2 separate regions of the Homo sapiens genome follow, and region 2 is linked to region 1. The links come from fine-mapping of genetic effects on gene expression. A gene starts in region 1. The other region holds a variant in brackets. All regions are shown on one strand. Distances are from middle to middle.

Region 1 (2,925 bases):
AATCTAGTGTCCCTTAGCACAGCAGGATAACTGTAGTTAACTTTTTTTTTTTTTTGACATGGAGTCTCACTCTGTCACCCAGGCTGAAGCACAATGAGGCAATCTTGGCACCCTGCAACCTCCACCTCCTGGGTTCAAGTGATTCTCCTGCCTCAGCCTCCTGAGTGGCTAGGATTACAGGTGCATGCCACCATGCCCAGCTAAGTTTTGTCTTTTTATTAGAGACGGGATTTCACCATGTTGGCCAGGCTGGTCTCTAACTCCTGACCTCAAGTGATCCACCCACCTCAGCCTCCCAAAGTGCTGAGATTACAGGTGTGAGCCACTGAGCCTAACCCAACAATAATTTATTGCATATGTCAAAATAGCTAGAAGAGTAGATTTGGAATGTTCCAAACACAAAGACATGATAAATATTTGAGGTGATGGATAATGTAATTTTCCAGACTTTACCATTACGCATCATATTCTTGTGTCAAAATATGACATGGAGCCCATAAACATGCACAACTATTTTGTATCCATAAAAAATTTTAATAAAAATTTTTTTAAAACATTATTGATGGACATGCAAAGGGTTGAAGCTAAAGTCAAATTTTCATGCATTAAAAATGGGAAGCTTTTCTCTTACAAAAAAATTAGAAAAGCAAGTACAAAAAAACTTAGGGTAATTGGAAAGAGTACTGCTTCCTGGATTTCAAAATTAGTCAAAAGACTTTGAAGAGCAGACATCCAATAATCAGTTATTTCCCTGTTTACCTTCTATCATGTAAATCTTTTCTGTCTCCCTAAACTATCAATAAAATCTGGTACAAACCTCCCAAAAAATATTTGCTTTCTTATTCTTTCAAGTGCTTATGGCTCTGGCTCTGAAGAATTACTCTTTCTTTCAAATTCCTTTGAGTCTACTATATTGGTCCAATCACTAGCTCTTCAATCTGTTCTTTGGCTACTTCTTCTCTCCAGGTGATCTCATTTCACCATACACTTCCACTTTCCTCTGAAACTGAGGAAATACTCACCTGTACTTTGAGGTTGCTGCTCTTGCATCATTATGCAGGCTCCCTGTGTTGAGAAGGTCCAGGAACCTTTTGTACCTCTCTCCCTAAAGATGTTGCCCAGAGACTCAGCTTCATTTAAAGAAGCTAGAGCTCAGGGACAAACTGCTACACACTCTTATAGGACTAAGAGACTTCCAACATTAAGTGTACCTCAAAAGAAGAAGTCACAATTACAACTAAAGTTTCCAGTGATTTCGATACGTGGGGTTAAAAAAAACAAAAGAGGAATTGAGAAACATTGAAAACCATTCATGAGAACTTTGACAAGAATACTTAGATCATTTCTTCAGTTTCTAACATAAAATTTCTCTGTCTGATTCCTATTCATTCTGGCATGCAAAATAGAAAATTTTTTATCTCCTAAAAGACATCTATTTAGAGAACTTGGTTAAATTAAGTGCTCCCTAACTAACCTTTACATTGGCTGCTTATTTTATGCAAGCCTTAATCCATGTGTTGAACAGTGTCCTAGGTAGTAAGCAAAAGTTTGATTGGATGGATATGGTTTAGATATGAAGGGTAACATAGTAAATAACAAAACCCATGAACATTGTTAAGGAATGTGACTGCAAAATGAAACATTCTGAAATCAGTCTGCAAAGGTGATGAAACATTCTTACTGCATCCAGACTAATATTGGGCAGATGTCAGTGATATTTTGTAATCTCCCTGATTAGGCAAAAGGGAGCCTGAAGTGATATAAAATCAGAAACAGGCTTCATGAATTTTATATTGTAGCACAGAAAATATATGATGTTTTCTTGTCCTCATAGATTCTTAGTAGAGACACTGTCCTGAAAACAAAAGGCAGAGAAACAAGAGAAAAAGCAGCAGTTTATCAATGTGTGTTATACCCATCACTCAGGAGAGAACTCAGTTCAAATGTATTTATCTCTTTCATGGCAGTGGCTTACAGGCCTTGCTTAAATAGTATGTTAACAAACAGCCATAAATCTATGGAGTGCTGAGAACGAAAAAAAAAAAAAACTGTTATTTGAGGAATGTGAGTGCCTTGAAACTATCAAGTCCAGAGTGGACTCATGAGAGAGATATGACAGGAGTCATGCCTCACTGCCACCTTGCACGAAATTTACCTCTTGAAGCCATTTGCTATGTAGGTTCTAGACTAACTGAACCCTAAAATTTAACAGTATACAGCTAATTACTAATCAATGTGGTTTCTGTAAACCAATGATAATTTACTGATGAGTAACTTTTTAATTCACTCCCTCTCCTGATTCATTCTTTTTTTAATTTTTATTTTTCCATAAGTTATTGAGGTACAGGTGGTATTTGGTTACATGAGTAAGGTTTTTAGTGGTGATTTGTGAGATTTTTGTGCACCCATCACCCAAGCAGCATACCCTGCACCATATTTGTAATATTTTATCCCTCATCCCCCTCCCACTCTTCCCCCCAAGTCCCCAAAGTCCATTGTACCATTCTTATACATTTTGTGTCATCGTAGCTTAGCTCCCCATATCATTGAGAACATATGATGTTTGGTTTTCCATTCCTGAGTTACTTCACTTAGGATAATAGTCTCCAATCTCATCCAGGTCAGTGCAAGTGCTATTAATACATTGCTTCTTATGACTGAGTAGTGGTCCATTGTATATCTATACCACAGTTTCTTTATCCACTCATTGATTGATGAGCATTTGGGATGGTTCCATGATTTTTCAGATTCATTCTTTTTTCTTTAAAATCTTCAGTCTTTCCTTTGCTCTCTAGACCACTTCCCAAGGCAACCTACAAGTGTTTTCCTGGGTAGCTGTCCTCATCCTTTGCCCAAATAAACTCTCTATATTAATGTGGCTTCAGCTACTTCCTTTAGGATGATAGTGAAAAGACAAAGAAGAGA
Region 2 (2,925 bases), 25 kb before region 1:
AACCCATTGCAAAGAAGCTAAAAACTTTGAAAAAAGATAAGAAAAATGGTTAACTAGAACAGTGTAAAGAAGACCTTATATGACCTGGTGGAGCTGAAAACCATGACACAAAAACTACGTAAGCATGCACAAGCTTCAATAGCCGATTTGATCAAGTGGAAGAAAGGGTATCAGTGATTGAAGATCAAATTAATGAAATAAAGTAAGAGGAGAAGTTTAGAGAAAAAAGAGTAAAAAGAAAGGAACAAAGCCTCCAAGAAATATGAGACTATGTGAAAAGACCAAATCTACATTTAATTGGTGTACCCAAAAGTGACGGGGAGAATGGAACCAAGTTGGAAAACACTCTTCAGGATATTATCCAGGAGAACTTCCCCAACCTAGCAAGCCAGGCCAACATTCAAATTCAGGAAATACAGAGAACACCACAAAGATACTCCTTGAGAAGAGCAATCCCAAGACACATAATTGTCAGATTCACCAAGGTTGAAACGAAGGAAAAAATGTTAAGGGCAGCCAGAGAGAAAGGTTGGGTTACCCATAAAGGGAAGCCCATCAGACTAACAGTGGATCTCAGCAGAAACCCAATAAGCTAGAAGAGAGTGGGGGCCCATATTCAAAATTCTTACAGAAAACAATTTTCAACCCAGAATTTCAAATCCAGCCAAACTAAACTTCATAAGTGAAGGAGAAATAAAATCCTTTACAGACAAACAAATGCTGAGAGATTTTGTCACCACCAGGCCTGCCTTATTAGAGCACCTGAAGGAAGCACTAAACATGGAAAGGAACAACCAGTACCAGGCACCGCAAAAACATGACAAATTGTAAAGACCATCAAGGCTAGGAAGAAACTTCATCAACTAACGGGCAAAATAACCATCTAACATCATAATGACAGGATCAAATTCACACATTAACAATATTAACCTTAAATGTAAATGGGCTAAATTCCCCTGTTAAAACACACAGACTGGCAAATTGTATATAGAGTCAAGACCCATCAGTGTGCTCTATTCAGGAGACCCATCTCATGTGCAGAGACACATATTGGCTCAAAATAAGGGGATGGAGGAAGATCTACCAGACAAAAGGAAAGCAAAAAAAAAAAAAAAAAGCAGGGGTTGCAATCCTAGTCTCTGATGAAACAGACTTAAAACCAACAAAGATTAAAAGAGACAAAGAAGGCCATCGCATAGTGGCAAAGGGATCAGTTCAACAAGAAGAGCTAAGTATCCTAAATATATATGCACCCAATACAGGAGCACCCAGATTCATAAAGCAAGTCCTTAGAGACCTACAAAGAGACTTAGACTCCCACATAATAATAATGGGAGACTTTAACACCCAACTGTCAACATTAGACAGATCAACGAGACAGAAAGTTAACAAGGATATCCAGGAATTGAACTCAGCTCTGCGCCAAGCAGACCTAATAGACATCTACAGAACTCTCCACCCCAAATCAACAGAATATACATTTTTTTCAGCACCACACCACACCTATTCCAAAATTGACCACATAGTTGGAAGTAAAGCTCTCCTCAGCAAATGTAAAATAACAGAAATTATAACAAACTGTCTCTCAGACCACAGTGCAATCAAACTAGAACTCAGGGTTAAGAAACTCACTCAAAACCGCTCAACTACATGGAAACTGAACAACCTGCTCCTGAATGAATACTGGGTACAAAA[T/C]GAAATGAAGGCAGAAATAAAGATGTTCTTTGAAACCAATGAGAACAAAGACACAACATACCGGAATCTCTGGGACACATTCAAAGCAGTGATAAGTGTGATGAGCAGAAATAGGCTTCATTAGAGTAGAGTGACTATTAAAAATTATAACTTTCTAGGAGCTATAAATCAAAGCTTTAAAAAGATGTTTGGATATATTTGAGTATTCAGATCATGAAAATAGAAATTGCCCTGCCTACTGTAAGAAGAGACTGATGGGAAATTATACACCTGGTCAACTTAACCTTTAAACAGACAATGCTGTAAAAGCTAATGGTTTCTCTGATATTTATTTTAAGTTTTAGTACTGATCTCCTTTTCCAGTGCTGCACACTCCTGTGTTTGGAACTTTAACAGATTTGCAACAAAATCCTATATCCAGCTTCCTATAATTTAATTAAAGAAAAACACATCCAGATAAAGGCTTTGCTATGTTTTATTATTATTATACTTTAAGTTCTGGGGTATATGTGTAGAACATGGAGATTTGTTACATAGGTATTCATGTGTGAAATCTTTGTTATTAACAGAGCAGATAGCATCAGAAATCATGTGACTATTATGATTCTCAGAATATGTCTTAACTTTTAGGGCAAAGTTAACACTGAAAGCTCTAGCTTAAGTGTTGGCACCTTTGTGGGAAAAAAATCACTTTTGAAACTCAGACTTCAATAATTTAAAATTATTGAAGACAATAATTTAAAATTACGTGAAATGTTTTAAATTTGTGAACTCCTAATTACTGTCTTAATGATTCATTTTCTTGAGAGCGATAATTGTATAAAAAGCTATTGCAGCTTTATTTTCAATATGACATGCCTGTAAACCATGGAGTTTTCCCTGTTTGTAAATAGACATTGTAGATAATTGAATGTTTGATTTTAGAAAGGTCATTAGTTTCTTGTTACACATTTTGTTAGTCTGGTTTTTGTTGCTTATTGGGTTCTTGAAAATAGTTGATGCTGTGTTATGTATAACTTTTCTAATAAAAGTTGTGTTATAAGCTGTAAAAAAAATATTTTGGAGCAGAGGAAATGGAAACCACCTAGTAAGATGATAGATTTAGAACCATATATATGTCGAATTGTCACAAATGTAAATGGATTAAATTTTTAACCTAAAAGGTGATTGCCATATTGGATTTTTTAAAATTTAACTATATGCTACTTATTAAGAGCACATGTGGAATAA

The links. PIP is the estimated chance that this variant, and not a neighbour inherited with it, causes the effect.
Region 2: its variant is the best candidate, but not a certain one, in a credible set for the expression of CLEC6A in whole blood (TOPMed, PIP 0.83).

Annotation. Positions count from the first base shown.
Region 1 is chr12:8,454,240-8,457,164 of GRCh38, reverse strand. It overlaps CLEC6A (C-type lectin domain containing 6A), which reads right to left and starts at 1,203. Exons shown (of 6, transcript NM_001007033.2): 1 at 1,023-1,203. The coding sequence starts at 1,053.
Region 2 is chr12:8,479,008-8,481,932 of GRCh38, reverse strand. No RefSeq gene overlaps it. Among named protein-coding and RNA genes, the nearest start is that of CLEC6A, 25 kb to the right of the region's middle. The variant T/C (reference allele first, on the strand shown) is at 1,696.